Linked DNA regions of Homo sapiens: regions 1, 2, 3, 4, 5 and 6 are each reported to be linked to region 7. The links are microRNA targets in miRTarBase. Many come from high-throughput screens and were not tested one by one. Region 7 holds a microRNA gene; each other region holds the end of a gene's coding sequence.

Region 1 (4,000 bases), not on the chromosome of region 7:
CCACCTCAGCCTCCCGAGTAGCTGGGCCTAGAGGTGCACACCACCATGCCTGGCTAATTTTTAATTTTTTTTGTAGAGATGGAGCCTTTCTATGTTGCCAAGCCTAGCCTCGAACTCCTGGCCTCCCAAAATGTGGGGAATACAGGCGTGAGCCACTGCACCCCGGGTCATTCCTCTTTTACTTCCTTGCTGTACCCCAACTATCCTTCCCCCTCGGTGCCCTTAAAACCTTTGCATTGGGTAAGTACATTTTTTAAAGAGACTCTAGAATTGGGCGCCAGTCTCCAATTAAAATTGTGAAGCTTTATGGTCTGCGTATCAAAAGGAACCTCAGTTCCTTAAAAATCCTGTCATTTTGCCTTTAGGACTTAACGGTAATAGAATGGCATTCCTCACTGCCTCCGAACCACTCAAGCTGCTGCCCATGCACTCTCTTCTGCATGGCTCCTGGACTAAGCAGCCTCCCTTTGATTAAGCAGGTAAAAACCAAATAAAGTTGTCAGACTATATGCCCTGCCCAGTGTGCAGTCTAGACCCAGCCTTTGTCTGCCAAGAGCCTGGAAATGTTGACCTCCGTTATTAAGCCTGGTCAGTCTAAGACTAATTCTTATTACCGAAGTACCATTAGGTAAATGTGCTAGCTATAGATTTAAGTGACATAAAAGATCTTAAAGAATTCTCCAAGGGATCTGTGGGGGGTTTATGTATTTATTCATTAAAAGATCTGTAAACAACATTTTATACAAATCTTGATTCTTTTACAAAAATATCCAGAATTCCTAACACTTTACAGAAAACACAACAGACCTAAGGAAATGAAGCAGCTTCAGGCTGCGAGGATGAAGACACCATTGCTGAAGCAAAGGTCTCCTCCTAGAGGGATAGCCAGGATCCATCACAGTAAACCCTTTTACCCCCATTTTATAAACATCCAATTATTAACTGTTCCTGCTGGGTTGGAGTGTAAGAAGAGACCAAATGGAGAGATGTCTAGTAGAAGCCCCACTGGGGGTAACCTGCTTAACATTAAAAAAAAGACAGGCTCAGTTCTATTCCCTGGACCCACATCTGTAGGAATTATATTATACAGCACCAGTCTTAAATGGTGTTCTGCTTCAGATTCATGCATACCTGAATGGGTTGTAATGACAATACTGTACAAGTCAATAAACTGTATCACAATACAACTTACACAGTTTTGTAAGGTTGAATAAATACTTTCTGTGCCAGTTAAAACCATCAGCAGAAACTGAAGAAAACAAACTGACATTTGCTATAACATTAATCAATGAAAAGTGCACCATCTGAACTTGAATTTGCCCATGAGTTTGAAAACACACACACACACACACACACACACACACAGGCCGGGTGCAGTGACTCATGCCTGTAATCCCAGCACTTTGGGAGGCCAAGGTGGGTGGATCACCTGAGGTCAGGAGTTCGAGACCAGCCTGGCCAACATGGTGAAACCCCCGTCTCCACTAAAAGTACAAAATTAGCCAGGTGTGGTGGCGGGTGCCTATAATTCCAGCTACTCAGGAGGCTGAGGCAGGAGAATTGCTTGAAGCCGGGAGGCGGAGGTTGCAGTGAGCCGAGATCACACCATTGCACTCCAGCCTGGGCAAAAAGAGCGAAACTCCATCTCAAAAAAAAAAAAAAAAAACCGAAACAAAACACACACACACACACATACACACACAAAAAAAACACTGCACCATCACTGAAAACTTTCTCTTTCCAATCACTACTACTACTACTTTAGATATTAAAGGTCTGGATGACTAAGTGGTATATGTTCAAGGAATGTTCATATTTTGAGTCTAATTTAATTAGAGCAAAAATTTCAACATTTCTAGGGGAATAAAAAGAGTCTCATCTAGGCACCTATAAAGTTCCTTATCCTCAGAGCTGAAAAGTGGCTCTGGTACACTTAATAGAAAATTTTTATTAATAAAAGAAATAGCTATATAATCCTACTGAGATGAAATTTCCATCTGTAGGACTAACCAACTTTTTCTGTGTCCATAAAAGTCTTGGCTTCAGTTCTGTGTTGTACAACTTTGGGCAACGTATTTAACTTCTTTGAATTTGTTTTTTTCTTTTTTCTTTTCCTTTTTTCTTTTTTTTGAGATGGAGTCTCGCTCTGTCACCCTGGCTGGAATGCAGTGGCGCGATCTCGGCTCACTGCAACCTCTGCCTCCTGGGCTCAAGCGATTCTCATGGCTCAGCCTCCCGAGCAGCCAGGATTACAGGCACCTGCCACCACACCCAGCTAATTTTTTGTGTGTATTTTTAGTAGAGACAGAGTTTCACCATGTTGCCAGGCTGGTCTCGAACTCCTGACCTCAAATGATCCACTCGCCTTGGACTCCCATAGTGCTGGGATTACAGACGTGAGCCATAGCACCCAGCCTCAGTTTATTAGTAAAATGGAGATGCAAATATCTATCTCATAAGGTTGATTTAAGGATTGGTTGAGATGATATGCATACATATACCACAGTGCATGGCACATGGTGGACACTAAAAAATAAAGGTGGCTCCCATGCCCTTGAAAGGACATTTTCATATTAGCTATAATTTCACAAAGTTTAAATTTATTTACTTATTTTTAAAATGTTTTTGTAGAGATGGGATCTTGCTATGTTGCCCAGGCTAGTCTCAAACTCCCACCCTCAAACTCCTGCCTTAGCCTCCCAAAGTGGTGGAGATTACAGGTGTGAGCCACTGCATCCAGCCTCCACAAAGTTTAATGTTGACATGTGAGGCACAAGCAAACTACTCAAATGCCACATAATTTGGAGGAGGAGTTGCAAGATGTCTAATTTTATAAGGTACTTAATAACAGTACCTTATAATATTACAAGTAGGGCTTCCTCCTAAGTGAGATTCCCCTAGATATAATATAAGGCAAAACAATGGAGATATGTGATGAGTCTATTCCTTAGCCCAGGTCAAACAGCCCATGGGTTTAAAGGGGCCATGATAGTTCAGTGATGAGAATTATGTGTATAAGGCTAGTGTTCTCCATTTCCATCATGTCTCTCTACTACCTTAAACTCAGCATTTCTCTCATTATTCTCATCTTTGAGCTATTTTTTAAATGTAACAACAACAAGGCTTTTCCTTGTGAAACACAACTACTTTCACAGACAAAGCACAAAACAGAGAATGAGCCCAAGAATCACATAGAAAAGGCTGCTATAAAAAAAAAATGGAGACAGAGTAAAGATGGCATGGTGCCAGACCATTCCCAACAATTCTCCAGTGATTACTACAGCAGCAACAGGAGAATCCTCCTCTAACAGCCTGACTCGCTCTTTAACCTTTTAAAATTTCAAGAATTTTGTAGAATACTTCATGGGATCCTGACCCTTAGAAAAATATTTTCTTTGGCACTTTCTGTTGTATATTCAGGATGGAGACAATCAGAGATTTCATTTCTTTTGCAGAAATTTCATTTTGCTTCCTAAAGGGAAAGAAAAGTACAGTGAATGCTCAATTCATTTTTATTTATTGTACATTATTTGAGGTAAGGGATTAACAGGTCAGTCATTCAGAACAGCCCAAGAGTTAAGCTGACATCTCAAACTCAGTTGATGTGTTTAACCCCCAAAACAAAAACAAAAATGAACCCCAAACCCCATATGTCTAGTTAATTGTAGCGGCAGAAAAGAACTCAGACATCATGTAATCCAGTGGTTTTCAACCTTGACTATAGGTTAAAATCACCTGGCTTCTCCCCAGAGATTTCCTGGAGCCCAGGGGAAAATTTTTTTTAAGTTCTCTGGAAATTATAAAATGTAGTCAGAGCTGGGAACCACTGATCTAATCTAACCCCATTGTATAAAGATGAAATAACAGCCTAAGGCCTAATTTGTCCATGGTCTGTCAGCTAGTGAAGGACAGGGCCTAATTAGGGGGCATATATTTCAAAGACAAAATATAAATATCGTAGCATATAGGTTATTCATTATTTTAGGCTAGCCACACCCCT
Region 2 (4,094 bases), not on the chromosome of region 7:
ATAAAGTAATACAAAGAAACAAAAAAACTAGATACTTTATTAGTACATTCTTTTAAAAACAATCTTGTTAGCCTGGTGAGGTGGCTCATGCCTGTAATCCCAGCACTTTGGGAGGCCAAGGCAGGCAGATCACCTGAGGTCGGGAGTTCGAGTCAAGCGTGACCAAGATGGAGAAACCCCACCTCTACAAAAAATACAAAATTAGCTGGGCCTCGTGGTTCATGCCTGCAATCCCAGCTACTCAGGAGACTGAGGCGGGAGAATCGCTTGAACCCGGGCGGCAAAGGTTGCGGTGAGCCAAGATCATGCTATTGCACTCCAGTCTGGGCAACAAGAGCGAAACTCCATCTCAAAACAAAAACAAAAACAAAACCAATCTTGTCATTACCTAGGAATAATAAGCATATTTACAGTCACCTATTTTCAGGGATCTTCGGGACCTGTTAAAACACTGACTGCCTTGACATTACATTTCTGCCACAGCTGTGCAAAGCACACCCCTTCAAAGTGTCATTTTCAGTTGCTACTAGACAATGAGAAATTAGTTGTAGAAGTATTTTGTAAATCTGTTTTGAATCAGAATACAGATTCTCTGTAACTAGAAATAGTAAAGGCACATGAGTTATAGCTTAGTCTATAAATTATCTTTATTCTTTGACATCTTACAGATCTCTACACAGACATCTGTGACCCTTCAGACGTTCAGGATGCCCCAGAGAAGGGAACATAGAGCTTCCTGTCTGCATTACATAAACTTTTCCTAATAAATGCATATGGTTAAGTTATAAGGAAGGTATAGTTGTAGACTAAACCAAATATTTTTTGTTTTATTTTTTTTTGAGACAAAGTCTTGCTCTATGGCCCAGGCTAGAACACAGTGGTATGATCTCAGCTCACTACAACCTCCACCTCCTGGATTCAAGTGATTCTCCTGCCTCAGCCTCCTCAGCAGCTGGGATTACAGGCATGTACCACCACCTGCTGCCAATTTTTTGTATTTTTAGTAGAGACGGGGTTTCACCATGTTGGCAAGACTGGTCTTGAACTCCTGACCTCAAGTGATCTGCCCACCTCAGTCTCCCAAAGTGCTAGGATTACAGGCATAAGCCACGGTGCCCGGCCTAAACCAAATAATTTGGATATGAGTGCTACCTAATTCATTAATGCAATTAAAAGTTTTCTATCTAAATAAGTTGATGATGCTTATAGTAATATACTGAAGGACCTTAGCAAAGAAATGGGAAATCGGCAGAGTGCGGTGGCTCACACCTATAGTCCCAGCACTTTGGGAGGCCAAGGTGGGCAGATCACAAGGTCAGGAGTTCAACACCAGCCTGGCCAACATGGTGAAACTCCGTCTCTACTAAAGATACAAAAAATTAGCCAGGCATGGTGGCTCACGTCTGTAATCCCAGTTACTCGGGAGGCTGAGGCGGGAGAATCGTTTGAACCAGGGAGGCAGAGGTTGCAGTGAGCTGAGATCACACCATTGCACTCCAGCCTGAGTGACAGGGCAAGACTCCATCTAAAAAAAAAAAAAAGAAACGGGAAATCAAATCCTTAAGTCAACTAGTTAAATTTTACTGTATGCAGCCGGGCACGCTGGCCCATGCCTGTAATCCCAGCACTTCAGGAGGCCAAGGCAGGTGGATCACCTGAGGTCAGGAGTTCGAGACCAGCCTGGCCAACATGGTGAAACCCCATACAGAAAAATTAGCTAGGCATGGTGGTGGGCGCCTGTAATCCCAGCTACTTGGGAGGCTGAGGCAGGAGAATCGCTTGAATCCGGGAGGCGGAGGTTGCAGTGAGCCGAGATCACGCCTTTGCACTCCAGCCTGGGCAACAAGAGCAAAATTCCATCTCAAAAAAAAATTTTTTTTACTGTATGCAAGACCTTTAATATATATTGCTCCAACTGGCCAGTAGAAATAACTTAAAAGTAACCGCATCATACACCCAGTAAATCTTTCTCTTAGAAATGAACAGAGAACAATTCTTTAGAATGCTTCTCAGGGAGAAAATGAGAAGTTTTGAGAAGCAGTTTTGTTTGGGTCAAGGGGTACTTTCAAATTACACTTATGAGTCAGTATCTATAAAAAGTTTCAGAAGTACCTACAATTTAGCCCTCTACATCCAAGCAGTAGCTTTGCAGTATGCTCTTACTTAGGTTTGCCCAAGTACAAATAAATTTTACAAAGCTTGATAATCTAATAAAATTCCCTCTTCCTAAAGCCAAACAGATAATTTTGGTGACAACAATCTAGCAAAAAAGGAAGAATTTTTTTTTCTTTTTTTTTTTTTTTTTTTGAGACAGGTTCTCATGCTGTCACCCAGGCCGGTGTGCAGTGGCACAATCTTGGCTCACTGCAGCCTTGACCTCCTGGGCTCAAGTGATCCTGCAACCTCAGCCTCCCAAGCAGATGGGACCACAGGTACAAGCCACAACGCCCGGCTAATTTTTATATATTTTTTGGTAGAGACGGAGTCTCATCACGTTGCCCAGGCTAGTCTCGAACTCCTGAGTTCAAGCCATCTTCCCGTCTCACCTCGGCCTCTCAAAGTGCTGGGATTACAGGTGTGAGCCACCATGCCCAGCCTAAAAAAGGGAGAAATTTCTAGGTGCATACTGCCTGCTGGACTGTATAGCCCATTACAACATCTGGTCACTAAGAACCTCCTATTAATTCCTTACTTGCATTCTCAGGATCAAGACAAAAAATATGAGCAAGCAAAAACTTATCATCAAGCAAAAAGGTATCTATCTATTAAAATAGCTAGATATTTCCCAAACACCCCTCCTAGGATATCTGCTGCCAATAAAAAGTTTGGGGCTAGTGAAAACTCTTGGCATTAAATAAAAGTAGGAATCTATTTCATTGGCTTTCTCTGTGGCTCAAACTATGGCCATGGAAAATTATGCTCTGGATATAATTGTGAATATAGAGGTCTTTAAACTGTGTCATTGACACTATTCCTATATCACATAAAGTTTTATGTTACAATTTATACTGCACTGGAGAAGTAGCTAAAGGGACTATTTGCCAGGAAGCTTCTAGTAAATAATTTCTACAAATTTGTAAAATAGGAGTTGTCTACACTTAAACTGGAGAATTCTACAGCATAAATGGCATTTCTATTATTAGTAAACCTGGCAAATCTGTGTGAGCTCTTTATTAATTGGGATATATTCCATATCCATTCTCACTCATATTTTTAGAAAAATCATTCTTGAGTTTATTTTTTTTCTTTAAGAGACAGGATCTCATTCTGTTGCCCAGAGTGGAGTGCAGTGGCATGATCGTAGCTTACTACAACCTCAAATTCCTGGGCTCAAGTGATCCTTCTGCCTCAGCCTTCCAAAGTGCTGGGATTATAGGCATGAGGCCACTGCGCCCAGCCTCGTTAGTCATTTATCTACCAAATACATGGAAAACTCACAGAATCAGAGGGTCTTATCACCAAATCTATGTTTGCTTTGCAAAAGGTCAGGTCCTGCATTTTCAAAATGTTCCTTGTGCTCTGTTATGCTTTATATTTCATAGCACAGCAACGCCCCCTTCACAACGACTGGTGATCATGTTACCAATTTCTGTCCATGTATCTGAATGAGGGTTATAAACTTCAACTGAGTCCAAGGTACCTGGAGCCAAAAAATCATGGCTGGAAGATCGACCTCCAGAAACATACAGAAGACCATTGACTGCCACAACACACATGCCTGCTCTAGGCACTTTCATTGAGGCAACTTCAACCCACTTTTCCTGGTTAAGAGAGAAAAAAAAAATATGTTAGCAGTGTTATGAAATGATAGTAAAGAAATCCACTGAGAAATTCGATATCCCAGTTCTTTTTACATGTTTAAATGTAAAACTATCTAGTCAGGTAAGCATACAGATTTTTTTTTCTTTTTTTTGCTTTGTTTTTTCCTTGGAGACAGGGTCTCGCTCTGTCACCCAGGCTGGAATGCACAGCAACGATCTCGGCTCAGCGCAGCCTCAACCTCCCAGACTCAAGAGCTCCTCTTGCCTCAGCCTCCTGAGTAGGTAGGACTACAGGTGTACACCACCACACCTAGCTAATTTTTCTATTGTAGA
Region 3 (4,085 bases), not on the chromosome of region 7:
CAATAGAAAGAGTTTACATAAAGAGTAGAAAAAGGCAGTTCTGTTTAAAGAATAATAGTCTCGACTAGTAATTATTTTTTAGACCTCATTTTAAAAGCATTAGTCCTGCACGAACTTCGAGTAGAGACTAGCAGCACATAAGTATGTGAGCAGTGGGACAGAAGGGGCTTTATTTTATAAAAGGGCTTGGATTAGGAGGAGACAGGGAAGGAGCTGAGAGTTAAAGCCAGCTTACTGGGGCTGCATCCATAAAGAGGTACCTTGTTGGTAAACACCCAAACTTCCATTTTTAGCTGGTTCTAGAACTCTTCACTGTATATGGCTGTCCTACAGCCAGGGCTGGGTCACTTGACCCTGCCCAACTGCCACACCCCAACTTAGAGGGATTGGGGGCAGGGGTTCTCAGTGGAAAGTGAGATACTCCTAGTTTCCATGGCTATAAAACCACTACACACCACTCAGAGTCCACCGAAAAGGGTGTCTGTCATTGGTGGAGTCTTACAACTTCAAAGAGGACATTTCTTTTGATTTACGTGTGACAAAATAAGACCATCGGTTATTTTATTCCAGTGATCTCCCTGTCTGAGAAGCCAACACGAATTTAAAAGACAATGGTTGGTATTGCTGGGCAGGCATGGTGGCTCACGCCTGTAATCCCAGCACTTTGGGAGGCCGAGGTGGGCGGATCACCTGAGGTCGGGAATCCAAGACCAGCCTGACCAACATGGAGATACCCTGTCTCTACCAAAAATACAAAATTAGCTGGGTGTGGTGGCGCATGCCTGTAATCCCAGCTACTTGGGAGGCTGAGGCAGGAGAATCACTTGGACCCGGGAGGCAGAGGTTGCAGTGAGGTGAGATCGCGCCATTGCACTCCAGCCTGGGTGACAAGAGCAAAATTCCATCTCAAAAAAAAAAAAGGCAATGGTTGGTATTTGGTATTTAAGGTTTTAAAATTGCATTTTTGTTTCTACCACCTGTAAGCTACAAAAATTAAATGGGTTTCTTTCGCCATCTGCAGCTATCACTTGTTCAAGTGAAAACTAGACACACTTACTTTAATAAGCCCAGTTGAAGCCACATTCTCTACTCATCTATTTATTGCTTAAGGCTATTGAGAGGTGGTTTTCCAGCCAGGGCTAAAGAAAGCCACTTTGGGAGTTCGGTTTCAGACGAGGAAGAAAATATGCACTCAAAGGCATTAAAAACAAAACAAAAAAACCCCCCAGAAACAACAACAAAAAAATATCAGTGAGAAGCTGCTTTTTGCAGTTCATATTAAAAGCCAGACCCTGCTTCCCTAAAACCACGCAATGCAAGCTGCTGTCCTTAGCAGCTGCTACTCCTGGCCCGAGAAATGAAGGCGTCCCAGATCACATGTCACCAGCTTAGGCGCTTCTCACACCCTCGATAACAGGTGTGCGGGGCGCAGTCCGAGGAGCAGCCCCCAAGGGACTGCACCCGAGGACGGAGAACGGATCTCACCAGTGAAGCCTCAGTGGCAAATGTTTTGATCATTTGATGTTGGAATTTGTCAAATCCTAGCTAGAGATAAGTAAATTTCCTCATCATACGCTGAGGTTAAGAAAAACATTCTGATAAGAGTGAGATTCTCGTTCAAGACTGGAGAACCCAGGTGGTCCTTGTTCTCCTACCCACAGGGGGCCAGGTCTCAAGTTTCCTATTCTCAAGCGAGCTTTCAGACCCACTGGGCCAGTTCTTTCAGATGGCAACAAATATCTGATGAATGAATGAATAAATAAATACAAGTGACCAGAAGAGTTAGTGAACACAAAGACTAATATTAGTTTCCTCTAAAAAAAATTTTTTTAAAGAACAAGGAATACATTGGACAAAAAAGGATGACAATCCCTGATCTGAAATAGCTTTAAATAGATTCTCTCTCCCTTTTAAAAATGAAACACCTTAAAACCACAACGGTTTGGGTTTTTAAACTCTCCCCTTCCCCTTAATAAAAAAGGCTGGAAAAATATACAAAAACCTACCCTTTGGGTGTAAACTATCTGATAGTCTCTCTCTCTCTCTGTCTCATGGAGAATCAATACATAATAGTGCATTAGGTAGACAGGATAGTAGACATCTGCAGACGAGATGAGCAATTTCAGCCATGAGGCAGAGGACTGAATAACCCTGAAGCGGTGCTTCCGTGGGGGAAATGGGATAGGAAAGGTATCATTCAAATGGAGCTCAGTGCAGACCTCGTAGGTCCAGTCACATGCCCCCAGAAAGGCAGCCCAAGGAAGCAGCAGCCAAGGGGTGTGGCTGCCCCCACACAGATGCAGGCGCACTGCACATGGGTGTGCTGCTGGGTCAGTGGAGAGCACTCTCCCCCAGCCCCATCGGACACCAAGGCCACAAAAGTACATTCCTTCTGGGTGTCTGTCCCCACACACCCCGTCGAGCCATTTCTGCAGCCAGTGGCAGGGGGCCCAAAATATTTTTGCAAAGGACTCCAAAGCCAGGACAACCAAAGGGGACAACCTCCTCTTCCCTGCCCGGAGGGTCAGAGTTCAGGTCGAGGGCCCCAAGAACATGCCCTTACTATGACCTGGACCTCAGCCAAGACCAGGGCTGTGAACTCTGTCATTTCACTTGGGACCATGACCTGAGGGGACAGACTGAGGACACTGGGCAGAATCGTCCCCATCACCCTGGAGCTTTCATAGCAGCGGCTTGACCTGGCTCCGCAGGGCTGTGGATCATGTACACCCTATTCCTAGCTGCTGCCATCACCTGCCTAAAGGCGTGGGCTGGAGAGGCATGGCGTCTGAGACCTGAAATCGTGTACATTGGGATTTGCCACGAGAAAGAAAGAGGCAGTTTTGCACTGCTCCTCAGAGCCTGTACCCCTATCAACTAGCTTTACTTCAAGTTTCTGGTTCATTTTCTAAGGCAGGTGAAGCCCTGAGCTTTTCAAAGGCCTGAGCTCCCTTCAGGGAGACAACAGTATCTACACATGATGTGGTTCATTTAATGCAGCAGTGATTTTTTTTTCTTTTTCAGCAAAAGTTGGCAGTTAGGGTTCTTTAAAATATATATTTAAATAACTTTTTACATTTACATACAATATCTTAAAAAAAAACAAAGCAGAGAACTCAATCCCACACCTCGGAACCCCAAGCACACACACTTTACAAAACAGAACAACATGTTATCAAAAGAGGCAAAGGACTCGGAGAATTTTGTCTGTTGATTTGTTAATGGGGTAGGGGGTGGTTTTGCCACAGGGGGCTCACATTTTGGGTTGACAAGGAGGGCTCTCTTTATTACCACTTTTGTGTGTTTGTCAAAGCTAAAAAAATTTTTTGTTTTTGTTTTTTGAAAGAAGTCAGTTTGGAGTCTCCATACAGTTCCCAATTTCCAGGTAAGAGTTCCTCCTGAGCTCAGGCTCCCGGGCTGCTGCTGTCTGCTGAGTGAGATCTCGGTCCTGGGAAAGAGAGAGAACAATCATCAGGGGAGGGAGCTGGCACCACACATGGGACCAGGCAAGGGACTCAGGTGGCCCTGTCCCCAGCATGTGGCAGGCCTGTGTATGCTAAAGGGCTGAAGCAGGTTCCTGTTCCCAGAGGGGCTCCATTTGTGCTGAGAGCACAGGTACCTCCTGGAGAGCCAGCCTCTCACTTGGATGTAGAGAGCTTTCTAGAAGCCCTCAGGTAGCACGAAAGCCCAATATATTAAAGATGTTAACTGGGTGCCCGGTGTGCGTCAGGCCTTGGGAAAAGCAGCAGAGAGGACTCCCTCACAGAGATTACGAACCTTGAGACAAAGTAATTTAGCAATAGGATGACAGAAGTGAACAGAAGGTGTGTAGGTGATCTCAGAGGGGGCTGGAGTGTTACCTAACCTAAGATCTGGAGGAGAAAAGTAGCGGACAGGTCTGGGGGCTGGAATGAGCTTGGCACATGGGAAGAACGGGACAGGGGCCACAGGAGGTGAAAGCAGGAAGCAAGGAGAGTGAACCAGGAGCTCATCAGATGGGTTGGCAGGAGCTGGATCACACAGAACTGAGTGAGATGCTAACATTTATTATTATTTTTGAGACAGGGTCTTGCTGTGTTGCCTAG
Region 4 (4,000 bases), not on the chromosome of region 7:
TGAGTGCATCAAAGTCAGCCCATACCAAAAGGAACACAATATTGTTTTTTTTTTTTTTGAGATGGAGTCTCGCTCTTGTCCCCCAGGCTGCAGTGCAATGGCACGATTTTGGCTCACTGCAACCTCCACCTCCCAGGTTCAAGCAATTCTTCTGCCTCAGCCTCCCGAGTAGCTGGGATTACAGGTGCCCGCCACCACGCCCAGCTAGTTTTTCTATTTTTAGTAGACACAGGGTTTCACCATGTTGGCCAGGCTGGTCTTGAATTCCTGACCTCAGGTGATCTGCCAGCCTCAGCCTCCCAAAGTGCTGGGATTACAGGCATGAGCCACTGTGCCCAGCCAGAACACAATATTCTTAACAAATGAAAGGGAAATTAGCGGTACATCATCATTAGACTATATTTTCAGCAACTTTTCTATTACAGGTATGCCCTGCTTTAAGAACACCCAATAACTGAGTTTGTTTAAATGCATTATAGAAAAATCTGGGCATTATGAATCAGATTTGATACACAAGCAACCTTTTAGCTTACTCCCCTGCCAGCCCACCGCCCCAGAAAATAGCCAAGGGGTCTAAATCTATATTTTGCTCCAGATCCAATGTTTTACTTTTGAAAAGGAAGATTCAGTGATTGAACTCACACAAGGCAATGGTCTGGGGCCTGCTAAAAGTCATGCTGTGGTTTCCATTGCATTTGAGACAACCAGACAAACAAATACAACTTTTAGAGGAAACTTCAAGTTTTCTCTTATTCACATCTCAGCCAGGAGTGGGATCTTACACTTAGAATTGCTTAGACCTGTGCTGTCCAATATGACAGCCACTAGCCGTATGTAGAGTATATTCACAATCCCGATCAATTTCCATCAGACCTCCATTTTTTCCAACTCTCTCATCATGAGTGGGGTTAGGGTTATTGTTTTCGGTTACTGAATATATTATTTTTCTATGTAAAGCTAACAGACATATATGGTGATCAAATCTGTAACCACAACCTCAGTAGTACTATTTTCTGTTATTGATTCAGATTTTATCTGCAAGACTGGCTGCAAGTAAGTTCAGAGAGACAGCATATTATTTGAGACACCTAACATTTCGTTAAAAAAATACTCAGTATCGGCCGGGCGCAGTGACTCACGCCTGTAATCCCAGTACTTTGGGAGGCCGAGGCGGGCGGATCACCTGAGGCCAGGAGCTTGAGAACAGCCTGATCAACGTGGAGAAACCCTGTCTCTACTAAAAATACAAAATTAGCTGGGCGTGGTGGCACATACCTGTAATCCCAGCTACTCGGGAGGCTGAGGCAGGAGAATTGCTTGAACCCGGGAGGTGGAGGTTGGGATGAGCCGAGATCACGCCATTGCACTCCAACCTGGGCAACAAGAGCGAAACTCCGTCTCAAAAAAAAAAAATATGTATAAAGATACAATCAAGAGCATCAATTTGGCTTAAAAGGCAATGTTACCTTAGTACTCATTAGCAAAACACACAATGCAATGCATTCTGACATGTTTATGATGATACTCTGATGTACTAATGTAAGTGAAGATGATAAATGCAATAGAAAAATTTTAAATATACTGGTGTTGGGGGCAAGGTGACAGATAAGCTGTGTCACACTCTGAGAGATACTGTTTATTACTGTACTCACATTGAACATGATTTGATTGTAGTAATTGCATCTGAGACCACATATTAGGGGGCTTCATAAAGGGGTTTTGTTATTCTTCAAAACTAATAACGCTTCATCTTAACCAAAACCCTCAATGAGAATAATCAGAAATAAAGCAAAGTTTTACACACTACCCTGAGGATCAATAACTTCAAGCCCAAGGCCATCTTAAGGAAATTTTCTTTCTGGTTTGCTAAAGCTGTGGGAGACCATTACCATCATGAGGCCAGTTACAAGAAATATTGATCTCTAAAATGTCATGCTCTAACACTCTATGCGGACTCACAGCATGTGCTGGCCAGATTGCAGAACAAGTCAGCTCTAAGTATTTCACACATTTATCAGTACAGGAGCTATTGCATTTACCACTGGATTAAGTTTCTGAGTAGCCATTGAAATTTGGGAAAAGGTATGGTAATGCAAAGTAGATAGGTTAGGACCTCCACACTGAAAACAGATATGGTACAGCTGTGAACATGGGAAAATTCCCTGAACTTGTACAAGGAAACAAAATCCAGAACAGGCTGGGCGCAGGGACTCATGCCTGTAATCTCAGAACTTTGGGAGGCCGAGGCGGGTGATCACCTGAGGTCAGGAGTTCGAGACCAGCCTGGCCAACATGGCAAAACCCCATCTCTACTAAAAATACAAAAAATTAGCCAGGTGTGGTGGTGGGCACCTGTAATCCCAGCTACTTGGAAGGCTGAGGCAAGGGAACTGCTTGAAACCAGGAGGCAGAGGTTGCAGTGAGCCGAGATTGTGCCATTGCACTCCAGTCTGGGCGACAGAGCAAAACTCTGTGTCAAAAAAACAAAACAAAACAAAACAAAATACAGAACAGATTCAACTCAGGTAAGTGAAACTGCCAGATGGCCAAAACAAGTTCTTCAAATTTCCACAGAACTCATTGACCCAGCAGGACTACATTTTTATCCAAATTGCAGCTGGGAGCTTGATTAACTGAGAAACAACACAATTAAATGACATGACATTCTTCATAGGCACCAATCCAATGTCAGTATCTGCAGGCTGAAGTACAGACAGTTACACTGAAATTGCGTATGCTCTGAGGAATGACACTAAATTCGCTTCCAGGAAAATTACTCAATTTTGTAAGTAATTTTCAGTTTTTTTTCTCAGGGATATTTTTCAACTTTCACTTTAATTTTCTTTAGTTGCTTAGTTGTACATTTTGAGAAGGCAAATCCATTGGAACTTGGGGAGGCTTAGAACATAAATCAGTATTAGAAGTAAAGGGAACACACAGCTAAAAGTTTTACTTTAATCACAAATTCACAACTAGAGATATCATTTGCATATCTTAGAACGCTAAAGACCTGTTAAAATTTTTTAACCAATCAGCAAAAATATGTGCCCCACAGATTTCTAATGTTCATAATTTAGAATTTATCACATATAATATTTATTAATAGTTTATTTGCAAAATTATTATTCTTAAAACACTTCTTTCCAACACATTTACAATGTTCATGTGTTTTAAAGAAAAAAACCACCCTCATTTAAAAATGTACTACTGACTTTAATGTGTGGTTATACCAGTGCCACCAAATTAGAAAAGAAAAAGAAACATACAGCTGTATTGGATATGTAGTTACTACTACAAATAATGACAACACACGTCCTATACAAAGATCATATTCACGCTTTTCTACCACTTCTCAGTCATTGTCAGAACCATTTGGAGGTAAGAAAACCAATGCATCATTGAAAATATGCCCAAATGCCCTAAGGCGGTATACCCCATACATCATCACATGCATCTGATTTGGAGTCAGTCCATTAAAAGTAACAGCCATATCTGAACAACAGCCTTCTACTACCTGGTTGGGGTGATAAGTCATTGCCTCTTTAATAGAAAGCCCAACAGATTTGGTATTAAATACATCTTTTCCATCAGCATCTTCTGCATTTTCTGCAAATACTCCAGCATATTTCAGGCAAACTGCTAGCTGTTTATCTTCAGATATCTTCCAAATCATCCCTCCCTGTTCAGGACACTTTTCTGGGATATTGAGAAGGCTGTTAAGTCTTTTCATTGATTCTACACTTAAGACAATTCCTCCTTCCATACCCACATATTCAAGGTCTCCAGATTTTATAGTGTGGCCTAGATAGAAAGGCTGTGATGGATCCTTTTTTAACAAAAAATACTTTAGGTTTTCAATGATAGCAAACGTAGTGGGGCGTGCAAGGAAGAACCAGTTGTATTGGTCTCTATACTTATCAAAGGCGTATTTGTAAGCTTTTCTCATCATTAACCACATGTCATTTGTGTCCATATTAATTGACTCAAACACTTTAACATT
Region 5 (4,094 bases), not on the chromosome of region 7:
TATAAATGTGTTCTTGTAGCTCCTCACTAATTAAAAACAACAACAACAACGAGTCCAGGCATGGTGGCTCACACCTGTAATCCCAGCACTTTGGGAGGCCAAGGTGGGCAGATCACCTGAGGTCAGCAGTTCAAGACCAGCCTGACCAACATGGTGAAACTCCATCTCTACAAAAGTACAAAATTTAGCAGGGCATGATGGTGGGTGCCTGCAATCCCAGTTACTTGGGAGGCTAAGGCAGGAGAATCGCTTGAACCCAGGAAGTGAGCCAAGATCGCGCCATTGCACTCCAGCTTGGGCAACAGAGAGACTCCATCTCGAAAAATAAAACAAAACACACAAAAAAACATGAAAATAAGATATTGTGGGCTGGGCGCAGTGGCTCATACCTGTAATCCCGGCACTTTGGGAGGCCGAGGCAGGTGGATCACCTGAGGTCAGGAGTTCCAGACCAGCCTGACCAACATGGAGAAACCCCGTCTCTACTAAAAATACAAAAACAATTAGCCGGGCATGGTGGCACATGCCTGTAATCCCAGCTACCGAGAGGCTGCAGCAGGAGAATCGCTTGAACCCGGGAGGCGGAGGTTTCGGTGAACCAAGATCGCATCATTGCACTCCAGCCTGGGTAACAAGAGTGAAACTCTGTCTCAAAAAATAAAAAGAGAAAGAAAGAAAATAAGAAATTGTGGAGGGCGAGGGATGAAACAGGACAAGGTGAGTCTGCTAATGCGTCTGTGCAGCCCAAAGTGCCAGGTACACCAAGTTCCTCCTGTCATTAAAAAATAGCAACAGAGCATGCCTGTTACAAAAACAACCAGCCAAGCAGCTCAGATCTTTGTGGGCATGGGCAGAGCCTGTCAGAGGGTGGGTTTCTCTGAAGGTTCTTGGGGGTCAAGCATGTTCTTTCATGGGAGGCCCCCCAGCAGTATCTATGGACTTTCACTTAACCCCATTTTTTGGTCTAGCCTCTCACCCACCCCTCCCCAGTACGCCTAAGACCCGAAGCTTCTCTGGTTCCATTTATCCTTCAAATAATCCTCACGTCACACCACCCCACCCAGAGGTGTAGCTGCTGGCTGCATGATGTGGGTGGGGTGTGGGTGGGATGTGGGGGAGCGGCACCCCACTGATCCTTACATAGACTTTCCATCGGTCCCCATTGTTGGCCGAAGCCTCACCTCACCCTCCATGGTCCTGGTGGAGTTCCTGAGCCCCTCCGGGGCTCTGGCAGGTAATTCCACTTGCCTTTTGGCCCCACCTTTTGGGAACACATAATTTCAGCTCTTAATTCTCCATCCACTTTCCATCTTTGAAAATGTCAGCCAGGCGGCCGGGCACGGTGGCTCACACCTGTAATCCCAGCACTTTGGGAGGCCAAGGCGGGCAGATCACGAGGTCAGTAGATCAAGACCATCCTGGCCGGCCAGGAGTGGTGGCTCACACCTGTAATCCCAGCACTTTGGGAGGCCGAGGCAGGTGGATCACAAGGTCAGGAGATCGAGACCATCCTGGCTAACACGGTGAAACCTCGTCTCTACTAAAAATACAAAAAATTAGCTTGGCGTGGTGGCAGGCACCTGTAGTCCCAGCTACTTGAGAGGCTGAGGCAGGAGAATGGCGTGAACCCAGAAGGCGGAGCTTGCAGTGAGCCGAGATCGTGCCACTGCACTCCAGCCTGGCAACAGAACAAGAGTCTGTCTCAAATAAAATAAAATAAAATAAAATAAAATAAAATAATAAAAAATTGTCAGCCAGGCACGGTAGCTCACGCCTGTAATCCTAGCACTTTGGGAGACGGAGGTGGAGGCAGGTGCCAGGAATTCAAGTTCAGCCTGGCCAACATGGTGAAACCCTGTCTATACTAAAAATACAAAAAAATTAGCTGGGCATGGCCAGGCGCAATGGCTCACACCTGTAATTCCAGCACTTCGGGAGGCCAAGGCGGGCGGATCACAAGGTCACGAGTTTGAGACCTGCCTGGCCAACATGGTGAAACCCCCGTCTCTACTAAAAATACAAAAATTAGCCAGGAATGGTGGCGGGCACCTGTAATCCCAGCTACTCGGGAGGCTGAGGCAGGAGAATCGCTTGAACCCAGGAGGCGGAGGTTGCAGTGAGCCGAGATCACGCCATTGCACTCCTGCCTGAGCAACAAGAGCAAAACTCCGTCTCAAAAAAGAAAAAAAAAAAAATCAGCCGGGCATAGTGGCGGGTGTCTGTAATCCCAGCAACTCGGGAGGCCGAATCACTTGAACCCGGGAGGTGGAGGTTACAGTGAACCGAGATCGTGCCACTGCACTCCAGCCCCGGCAACAGAGAGAAAAAAGAAAATGTGGTCAGGCTCTGTGTTCTACTGTCTTCCCTCCTGTTTTCTTTCCCTTTGTATTATTTTTGATTTTCTTTACTATCATCTTAGAGAGATCCTAAGAGAAAACTGAGACGAACACATGTGTTTAGGCCTGCCATGTGGAAATGGCGGTCTCTATTCATTCTATTTACACGGAAACATTTAACAAGCAGCTCTTGAGGAGGCCAGAGAGGTGCAGGCCTAGCCCTGTCAGCACCACCCTCCACAGATGCCCAAACAGCCCCAGCGCATTTCTTTACCTTGATTTCTTTCCTACTCATTTCCTCCAGCTGTGCAAGGGTAAAGGCAAAAGCACAAAGACCTGGGTTGGACCCTGCCTCCATTTGCCGCACCATGATCTTACCACATGGATTCTTAGAGCGTAACTGCTGCCCCATGGACCAGGTTAGCTAAGAGAGGTTCCATGAAACTGCTGTTGCAGAAATGCTTCTAACTATAAAATGCCAAACCTGGGAAAGAATGTTTGGATTCTCATAGCCTGGATCAGTAGGACACTGCCTTGGCGTGCTGGTGCCCCACCCCCAACTCACCCAGGCCAGGGGAGGTAGAGCCCCAGCCCCTGAGACCCTCAGGCATCCTGCAGTTTCCAGGCCCTACAGAGGGTCCCAGAAACAGCCCCAGCAACAAAGTGAGGGGCCAGAAACTATGCAAAGATGGAGGGAGGCTGAGAAACAAGTCAGTGCTTTATTAACCTGGCAAAGGGGCAGCTAGGCGGCCTGAGCAGCCCCTGCCAGACCCTCCTCTGCACTCCTCTGCCTAAGTCACGGCCCAAGCCCTGGACACGTAGGAGTGTAGGCGGGCAGGGGCAAGGCCAAGGAAGGGGTGGAGTTGTCCAATGCAGATGTTAAGGTCCAACCCGACTTCCTTACTGAGTCTAGGTGTGGGGGCCCCCCTCTCACCCCTTCCTCCCTGCACAGCTCTGGCTCTTCCTGGAGTCAGGAGGCTGTGTGTCCCACATCTGCTGTGGTCTGGAAGGTGATCCCATCCCCAGGCAATGGGGAGGCCAGGAAGGGCCAGAGCCAGACGAGGGCCCAGCGGGGCCCCAGGGCTGCCTGCAGGTTGTGGCAGGGACCCAGGTCATAGGAGTGCTGGCCCCGAGCCCACTCCCATGTGGTCTGGCCCCGCAGCAGCAGCATCCCATGGAAGAGCAGCCCAGCCCCGCACAGCAGCGCACCCGCCACGCACGTGTCCGTCACGAAGGCCAAGGCAAACTGTGCCAGAGACACTCTGCCTGCAATAAAAGAGCAGAGAGGGTCAGGGAGGGGCAGTGGGGTCCGGCTTTCCTGCCACCTGCTCCCCTCCACCACAAAGCAGGGCTCATTCCTCCGCTCAGCAAACCCTGTGTCGATACTCGCTGGCCAGCCCGTGCTGGGTGACAAGAACGCACTGGTAAACTGGGCAGACGCAGCCCCCTACTTGGGATACGGCTTCATTCCTGCATCACAGACTTGGTGAGCACCTCCTCAGCCCTGGAGGCGGTGCCAGGCACTAGAGGGTGTCTCTGCCCTTGGGGAGCTCACAGACATTAAAGAGGCCATTCTTGGCTGGATGCGGTGGCTCACACCTGTAATCCCAGCACTTTGGGGGGGCGAAGCAGATAGATCACCTGAGGTCAGGAATTTGAGACCAGCCTTGACAACACGGTAAAACCCCGTCTCTACTAAAAAATACAAAAATTAGCCAGACGTGGTGGCAGGCGCCTGTAATCCCAGCTACTCAGGAG
Region 6 (4,094 bases), not on the chromosome of region 7:
CACAGCTACAGTATGTACACGGGGGAAGGGGGGCCACCCCCAGCAGCCTGTGCCCTGGCCTGGTCTACAGTTAACTCCACTGTCCCGCCTCAGCTGCCTCTCTGAGTAAGAAGATGGGAGCCCCCCTGAGGGAAAAGTTGCTTTGGTGAGAGTAAGAAGGCCGTCAGACCTCCTCCAAACAAACCAACTCCACCAACCTCTGGCTCTTAAATAACAAACATCATCATCCAGAAATGTAAGGACTCAGCCTTGGTCAAGGTGGTAAAGGGTCTGTTTGTCTCCCTCCATTAGACAAGGGTCTTGTCTTGCTACCCTAATGGTAAAGGGCTGACTGGGGAGGGGTTGTAGGGACATGGTGGGGGTGAAGACTCCAGACCCACTTCTCCAGGCTTATGCTGACAGGGGCCTGCTTTTATTTATTTTTATTTTTATCCCATGACTTTTTTTAAATCCTGTAACTAATTTTTCATAACTTTTTAAAATAACTTTTCATAAAACTTTTTTTTTACTTTTTTTCCACAACTTTTTTTTGCCACTTTTCCACAGTATTTTTTTATCCTGTAACTTTTTCATCCCACAACTTTAATTTCTGTTAACTTTTTTAGTTTGTGTTCTTTTAATAAACACACTTACATAGTTACAATTTTGTAAGAATAAAAACCGATTACCTCATGCCAAGCATGCCGAGAATTTGCAGAGTCTCAATACCCAATACTATAGTTTTCAAGACACACAAAATTTTTAGGCAAAACAGCACCTTGAAACAATTTAATAATGTATTACATTACAGTAGCATCACAGAAGCAGTCAATAATGCCACTTTAGACAAAAATCAGTATTTCCATTATGCATTCTGTGTATAAGAATTCATAAATCGGTAAAAGTCATTCTAAGAAAACTTGGCAAATACAGCTTTGGACTGGAATTGGCATTTCTTTGTCTACTTTTCCTTCCCCTAGATTCTTTGTTTTAAACTACAGTATTCATATTTTAAAATGTTTTAAATTATTTTAAGACGTTAATATAGCAGTTACATTTTTGAATAGTTATTTGAAAGTGACTGTAAGATAAAGTTTTAGAGAATCTATTATGGATAGGGTTGATTTACATTTTCACATTTTCTAAAAATCAGCTTTGGTTTTAGAACTGATTGTTTTTCATTTTGGGAAAACCTACCAGGTTTAATCAATTACTTTAAAAATAATTATCATATTTTGCAGTCTTTAAATAGGTGTTTTGATTCTTTACTCCCTAGAGAAATTCAAATTTATTCAGTTGAAGTCACATTTTAAAATTCTATGTTCCTGCTGAACTCTAACCTTCTAATGTTGCCTTCTAAGCAAATTAAAGGCTGCCTTATACTGAATGAGGTAGAGAACAAATACTTGGCTGAATGAGGTACTGCAAAAGACTGCATGCACTTTGAAGAAAGACTTGAGTTATTGTCATAGGATTTCCATTCTCTTTAGCTTTTTCTTAAACATATGACAAAATACCTACACAAAGAGTCGTATTTGAATTAATATAGTATATTTATTTTTCAGACTGACATTCATCTTAAATATGCCAGTATGTGATTTAATCCACAGGTACCTGATGAACACATTATTGTCAGATTGGTTACAGTTGCTAAACGCTATCTGAAGGTCATTCCTATTCATTTATACGTGTCAGGGTAAAAGTGAAGCGATTTGAACTATAAAAATACCTTTGAAATAATTTATCAATGTATTAGATAAGCTCAGTTTCAGAATGATAAACAAAAACTGTTAGACCAAATAACGTGGCTAATTAACAGTGGTACGATTTCTAGCCCGAGGGTTTAAAATGGAGTTAAAGTAAGTGTCTTTAAACTGAACTCAAAGAATGCAAAAGCGGCAAGTTCAGACAAGGCAAGAACAGGACCTTTAGTCCATTTTAAGCCATAAATATTACACAAAATATGCCTCTAACTGAAACTGAGAGGTATAAAAACATATTTCACTCTTCGTAAAGAACTTTGTGAGGAAATATAACTCTGTGATTGTATAGACACTTTCCTCATGACACTTTGACAGTCACAAACAGTAGATTGCGCTGCAGTTTGTAAACATTTTACGTTGCATAAACTGCTCCTTGATTTTCAAATGTAGTATAATACTGTCTACTAAAACTCCTTTTTGTTTCAACTAAGTACTCTCACATATATTAGTTTATAATAATGTTTGTTATTATTTTTAAAGTGTTCTCCATTCAAGGAAAAGAAGTAAATTCCTATGTCAGATGGTTGAAGACTAGCTATTAGCCAGAGAGGTCTAGATGGTAAAATCCATCTTCTAGCCTCAAATAAGCTCCATGAACACAGAGGAATGCCAGGTGTCACACAGCTTTCCTTCACTCGAATTCATTCTTGACTAGAGCCTGTATATGCCTGTTCCAGGGGCATTTAAACTCTTAAAGGATTTCTTCTGATCTTTACTAAATACATTAAGGAGAACGCCAACCAGTGCCCTTTTGTGTACTGGGACATGTAGTCATGTGATTAAAACAGGGAACATGAACGCTGACTTTAAAATGTATTGTAGATATAAATGCTCTCAGCTAGAAAAGGTTTTCCACATCCACAGTCATGATGGGAGCCTTTCATTCCTCAGAAATAATCCCTTTTCAGGTCATCAAAAAAGAGTACAACTGCCACAGCTCATGAGGCAGTATCTTCATGAGCCCAGAGCACATACAAATCCTAAGGGAACTACCGTAGTACAGCGCTCATTCTTGGCACCGGAACAAATGAAACATATTCTATCCTGCACACACCTGCCAAAGCAGGCCACTTTCCTCTTCTGGGAGATTTAAAAACCTCCCCAAAATGTTATTACTCCCATCCCCAATACACAGAAAAAGGGGGAAAGGCTGTTTCCAGTGCTCCACCTTTAAACAACTGTAAATGTCAGTACTCACAGTGGCATATTACAAAGTAATAGACCGCGCACTTGAGGGCAAACTGCATATTGAGCTAATGAAGAGCTCACTGTGATTAGGATTCGATCAAACATAACAGCAGAACATAAGGAAATTTTATCTGAATTCCGTAATGAATATACAGGCTGTACTAACATTCAAAAAGCATGGCAGCCTATCCCAAACCAGCAAGAACAGTTGTGTGCATACAGTGGGTCTTTGTGTGTTTGAACTCCCACCACATAAGGGCAAACTCGATATGCATGCTAACGTCCTATAATTATCAAATTAAAAAAATGCTAAAAGATGCCAGAGTGAACATGAGAGAAACACCCACTCTCATTTAACTTTTTACAAATAAATTTAAATTATAAATTAGAAACACAAATAAATTTAAACTATAAATTAGAAACACAAATAAATTTAAACTATAAATTAGAAACACAAATAAATTTAAACTATAAATTAGAAACACAAATAAACATAAGTGGCTCTAACATTCAAATGAAGTAAATGAATTGTGTAGGATATTAACCCCTTAAATGTTTTGTTTTTTTTTTTCAATTCCTTGACCCGCTCTTAGATGATGGTGATGTTTAGCTCCCTGTTCTCCGCAGCCCGAAAAGAATGGCATGCAGCCTCTCCTGCTCCTCCTGCCGCCTCTCCTGTACCAACAGCTTCTCCACTCAAGCCTGGGTGCTCCTGGGGAGTCCTGCATTAGAGGAAGCAGCTGCTGGATCTGCTGTGCAGTGGGGTTGTCATGGGGGAGAACCCTCCCTGTCCTCTCCCGGTGCAGCCTCCATGCTATCAGTGAGGCTCAGCCCACTAAGATCTTCAGAGAGAGGGAGGGGGGTGGGAATCTGGGCACAGTGCGAGCCTCCCCTGCTCCTGCCTGCCCACCCCGCCTGAGGGCTCTACTCACCACCCTGCTTGTCCGCACATCCAAGCTCCTTGTGGGACTGGGGCTCCAGCTACTGGTCTGGCTGCTGCTGCAGACTCGGAGCCTCTTGGCTCTTCAGCTCCACCTGCCGGAAGACCCTGGGCATGAGGACATGTGGTGGCTGGCTTCCAGATTCCTGGCCCATTAATAGGGTAGCGAGGACACTGTGGGGCTCTGTGGCCTGCCCAGGCCCCTGGCCCCTTGCTCCAGGCCT
Region 7 (4,094 bases):
CCATAACAAGGAATGAAACACAGATCTATGCTGCGTGGCAGTATCTTGAAAACACTACACTCAGTGAGAGAAGTCAATCACAAAAGGCCACATACTGTATGACTCCATTTATGTGAAATGTCCGGAACAGACATATTCATAGACAGAAAGTAGATGAGTGGCTTCCAAGGGCTGGGGGAAGGGAGAATGAGGTGAGACTACTAATAAGTACAGAGTTTCTTTTGGGGGAGACAAAATGTTCCAAAATTAGATTGTGAGGATGATTGCACAACTTTTTCAATACACCAAAACCCATTGAATTGTATACTTTAAAAGAATGAATTTTATGATGCGTGAATTAGATCTCAATAAAGATGATTTTAAAATGTTTTCTGAGGGGCTGGGTGCAGTGGCTCATGCCTGTAATCCCAGCACTTTGGGAGGGTGAGCTGGGTGGATCACCTGAGGCCAGAAGTTCAAGACCAGCCTGGCCAACATGGTGAAACCCTGTCTCTACTAAAAATACAAAAATTAGCCAGGTGTGGTGGTGCACGTCTGGATTCCCAGCTACTCGGGAGGCTCAGGTACGAGTATTGCTTGAACCCCGGAGATGGAGGTTACAGTGAGACGAGATCACGCCACTGCACTCCAGCCTGGGGGACAGAGCAACACTCCATCTCAATAAATAAATAAATAAATGTTTTCTGAGGATCCCTGGTTTTCAGAGTGTTCAGGGAGTTGGTGGGGGTGGGGGACGTGTCATGAAAATATAAGTTTAGTGAATGCAGGCTAAGCAAGTCCAGCAACAGTTTTGATACAGGTCTTCTCAGAGACTTTAATTTGTGGATATAACTAGTGATACTCCCAAAAGGAGTATGTACTAATACCAGATAATGCTTATTGAGTATTCGCAGTGTTCTAGTCATCTATTAGCTTATTTATATGTATATTAACTAATTTACTCCTCACATTAGCCCTCTGAGATGGACCCTATTATTCCACTTTAGAAATGGAAAAACTGGGGCACAGAGAGGTTGAGAATCCTGCCCAAGATCACACAGCTAACAAGAGGCAAAGCCAAGATCTGAACTTAAATAGCCTTGCTCTGGGATTCACGCTAGACTGCTTATCTTGGTACAGTGTACAACATTTCCAAAACAGGTTTGACCATAGCTTACTTGAATAGGAACAATCTCAAAGGATCTGCCTTCTCTCCATCCTTGAGGTCTGCCTCCTGGATCTAGAAGCATCTCTCACTGAGACAAGTGCAACATCTTCCCCATCTCCTTACCTCCACTCTCCCTCCCCACACTGCACTCTCCTTTTTTAACACACACGACATCCTTCCCTTGCTTCAGACCCTCTGATGGCCTCCCACCACTCTTAGACCAGCGTTTCTCAACCTCAGCACTATCAATATCTGGGACTGATGAGTTCTCTGTGGTAGGGGCTGTCCTGTGCTTTGCAGGACATAGGCAGCATCCCTGGCCCCTTCCCACTAGATGCCAGGAGCAACTGCCCCCAAATGGGTGGCAACCAAAAATGTCTCCCAACATTGCCAAATGTCCTTTGAGGGGCAAAATCGCCCCCACTGGAATCACTGCCTTAGAACAGAGTCCTGTTTCCTCACTGTGGCCGATAGACGTCCCCGCTCATCTCTCCATCAACGTTGGCCTGCTCTCTGCCCTTTAAGTTCTCCCAGTGAATCTCTCCGCAGGGCCTTTGCATAGCTCCTCGCTCCCTCTGCCTGGAGCTCGTCCCCTCAGATCTTCTTCATAGCTAAGGCTTTAGCTCCAAGGCCCTCACCTGAGACAGGTTTCTTCTGCCCTCCTCTCTCCCACCTTCATTGCACTTTCCTGCCCAGTCACCCACTTTCCTACCACACAGATTGTTTTTCCCTCTAACACACTGTGATTGAACTTAAATTGTGTATTTTTTTTCCTTCTTTGTTTTTCTTTAGACATGGGGTCTCCTTCTGTCACCCAAGCTGGAATGCAGTGACTTGATCATAGCTCACTGCAGCCTCAACCTCCCGGGCTCCAGTGATCCTCCTGCCTCAGCCTCCCAAGTAGCTAGGACTACTGGCATGAGCCACAATGTCCAGCTAATTTTTTAAAAAAATGTTTTGCAGAGATGGGGTCTCAATGTGTTGCCCAGCCTGGTCTCAAACTCCTGGGCTCAAGTGATCTTCCTGCCTCAGCCTCCCAAAACGATGGGATTACAGGCATGAGCCACTGTTCCTGGACTTTTTTTTTTTTTAATCTGCCTTCCCCAGCAATGTGTGTGCAGGAACTTGGTGATGCCAAGCTTGGTTGAATCTCCAGTACTAAGAAGGGCCCTGGGAACCATGAAGGTGCTTAAACCATTTGTTGGATGAATCATAAGCCTGCCAATGTGTAAATTGGGCAGCCCTTCTGGTGTGTGCCTAGGAGTGGAAGAGACAGAGATGTGGAAAGGAAAACACCTTTTGGGGTTTCATCGCCTTGGGTTTGAACACTGGACATGCCTTCTGGTCCTTTGCAAAAGTGCCTCTTTCTCCCAAAACCAGTTGCCAAGAAGTCTTAAAAAATGGAAAACAAACAATAAAAAAGAAAACGAAGAAGCGAAGGGAGAGAAGGAAAATTACTTCAGTTTTAAAAGTCTCCTTAAATCAGAGCAAGTCTCTGTTTAATGTTGACTGATTTTCAAATAAAGCAGAGATGAGGTTTTGGAGCTAGCTGGAAAACACTTGTGATGGGGTGTCTCTAGGTCAGGGCCTCAGGATTCCAACCAAGGGGGAGGGTGGAGGAGAGCAATTAGCAGCTCAGCGAGGGTGTGAGGAGGAAAGAAATAAAGAGCAGAGAGGATGAGTCAGGCTGGGCTGTGGCACAAAGCCACCCTGCGTGCTAACAAGCAGAAAGCGAACCAGGTCGGGGAACCTCCCCTGCAAATCCCCAGGGCGACTCAGTGCAGCAGAGGGAAGCTGCTTTTTCTAAAGCCCTCCTCAGCTTTCTCCATCTGGGTCTGTAGTCTGTGAAGGGATTTTGCAGGCTGCAGAGATTTTGCTCAGCATGACTTATCCTCCCGGGCTTGGCTGCTACTTCAGTGAATGAGAGGCTGAGATTGAGGCTAGCTCTGAAGTTCTCAACCTGGAAGCCCCAGCCAGAGGAGTTCTGGAAGGTTACAATGGAGGTTCTAAATATTTTAAACCTAGGCCGGGCACGGTGGCTCATGCCTGTAATCCTAGCACTTTGGGAGGCCAAGGTGGGCGGATCACCTGAGGTCAGGAGTTCAAGACCAGCCTGGCCAACATGGCGAAACCCCATCTCTACTAAAAATACAAAAATTAGCTGGGCATGGTGGTGGGTACCTGTAATCTCAGCTACTCAGGAAGCTGAGGCAGGAGAATCACTTGAGCCCGGGAGGCGGAGGTTGCAGTGAGCTGGAGATCACACCACTGCACTCCAGCCTGGGCGACAGAGCAGGACTCTGCCTAAAAATAAAAAATAAATATTTCAAACCACCTACGAAATATTTTTATGAAAAAAAAATCAAACCAGAAACAGTTAAGCCTCCAAATTCAACTCTCAATTTATAAGAAATACCTGAAACAGAAAAACATAGTAAATTATATCACAGGGATGCAATCCCCAAACTCCTAATTGCACAAAACTCTCTGGGACTAATGACTCAGTTTCTTCAACAAGTAAATTGCAAGGAAAGAAAACTGGAGAAGAACCTATAGAATTTAGGAGACTTAAGAGTCATATCAACCAACAGCCATGTGTGGATGGACCTTATTCGCATCTTGATGAAAACAAACTAAACAAACATAACAAATGCCGCATGGTCTCGCTTATATGTGAAATCTAAAAAAGCCAAACTCATAGAAGTGGGAGTAGCATGGTAAGCAACAGAGTGGGGGCTAGGGGACTGGGGAGATAGGGGTCAAAAGATATAAAATTCCAGTTAGACAGGCTGAATAAGGTCAAGAGATCTACTGTACAACATGGTGCCTAGGTAGTTCATGACAAGCTATTGTATTCTTGAAAATCGCTGAGAGTACATTTTAGGACTACCTGTGTGTGTTCTCACCACAAAAAAATGATAAGTATGTGAGCTAAGGTGTATGTTCA

The links. Region 7 holds the annotated microRNA hsa-miR-4325 (UUGCACUUGUCUCAGUGA, at 1,233-1,250, opposite strand). A microRNA usually pairs through its seed, bases 2 to 8, with sites in the 3' UTR of a target mRNA and lowers its output. Matches are read on the target gene's strand: a 7mer-m8 pairs with bases 2 to 8, a 7mer-A1 pairs with bases 2 to 7 and ends in A, and an 8mer does both.
Region 1: miRTarBase lists DENND2C as a target of hsa-miR-4325. Seed matches in the 3' UTR shown: 7mer-A1 at 1,609-1,615.
Region 2: the mRNA of IPP is a reported target of hsa-miR-4325. The part of its 3' UTR that is shown has no 7-base or 8-base seed match.
Region 3: the mRNA of ZNRF3 is a reported target of hsa-miR-4325. Seed matches in the 3' UTR shown: 7mer-A1 at 2,844-2,850 and 7mer-A1 at 869-875.
Region 4: miRTarBase lists C1GALT1C1 as a target of hsa-miR-4325. The part of its 3' UTR that is shown has no 7-base or 8-base seed match.
Region 5: miRTarBase lists ZDHHC24 as a target of hsa-miR-4325. Seed matches in the 3' UTR shown: 7mer-A1 at 2,136-2,142, 7mer-A1 at 613-619 and 7mer-A1 at 283-289.
Region 6: the mRNA of GOLGA6L4 is a reported target of hsa-miR-4325. Seed matches in the 3' UTR shown: 7mer-m8 at 1,417-1,423.

The regions. Positions count from the first base shown.
Region 1 is chr1:114,582,160-114,586,159 of GRCh38, forward strand. DENND2C (DENN domain containing 2C) reads right to left here. Exons shown (of 21, transcript NM_001256404.2): 21 at 691-3,472. The coding sequence ends at 3,441. It overlaps LOC105378914 (a long non-coding RNA gene), which reads left to right. Exons shown (of 3, transcript XR_947719.4): 1 at 1-240; 2 at 366-479. Among named protein-coding and RNA genes, the nearest start is that of BCAS2, 2.5 kb to the left of the region's middle.
Region 2 is chr1:45,696,430-45,700,523 of GRCh38, forward strand. It overlaps IPP (intracisternal A particle-promoted polypeptide), which reads right to left. Exons shown (of 9, transcript NM_005897.3): 9 at 2,282-3,761. The coding sequence ends at 3,537. Among named protein-coding and RNA genes, the nearest start is that of TMEM69, 10 kb to the left of the region's middle.
Region 3 is chr22:29,052,942-29,057,026 of GRCh38, reverse strand. ZNRF3 (zinc and ring finger 3) reads right to left here. Exons shown (of 9, transcript NM_001206998.2): 9 at 1-3,448. The coding sequence ends at 3,405. Among named protein-coding and RNA genes, the nearest start is that of C22orf31, 6.8 kb to the left of the region's middle. RefSeq lists a silencer at 1,532-1,826.
Region 4 is chrX:120,622,858-120,626,857 of GRCh38, forward strand. C1GALT1C1 (C1GALT1 specific chaperone 1) reads right to left here. Exons shown (of 2, transcript NM_001011551.3): 2 at 2,817-4,000. The coding sequence ends at 3,353. Among named protein-coding and RNA genes, the nearest start is that of C1GALT1C1, 5.2 kb to the right of the region's middle.
Region 5 is chr11:66,536,223-66,540,316 of GRCh38, forward strand. It overlaps ZDHHC24 (zDHHC palmitoyltransferase 24), which reads right to left. Exons shown (of 3, transcript NM_207340.3): 3 at 1-3,602. The coding sequence ends at 3,307. Among named protein-coding and RNA genes, the nearest start is that of ZDHHC24, 7.8 kb to the right of the region's middle. RefSeq lists an enhancer at 3,378-4,094.
Region 6 is chr15:84,242,018-84,246,111 of GRCh38, reverse strand. It overlaps GOLGA6L4 (golgin A6 family like 4), which reads right to left. Exons shown (of 9, transcript NM_001267536.3): 8 at 3,863-3,965; 9 at 754-3,652. The coding sequence ends at 3,520. Among named protein-coding and RNA genes, the nearest start is that of GOLGA6L4, 8.3 kb to the right of the region's middle.
Region 7 is chr20:57,320,332-57,324,425 of GRCh38, forward strand. MIR4325 (microRNA 4325) reads right to left here and starts at 1,260; the gene lies at 1,171-1,260. All of the region lies in intron 2 of LOC105372687 (a long non-coding RNA gene), which reads right to left.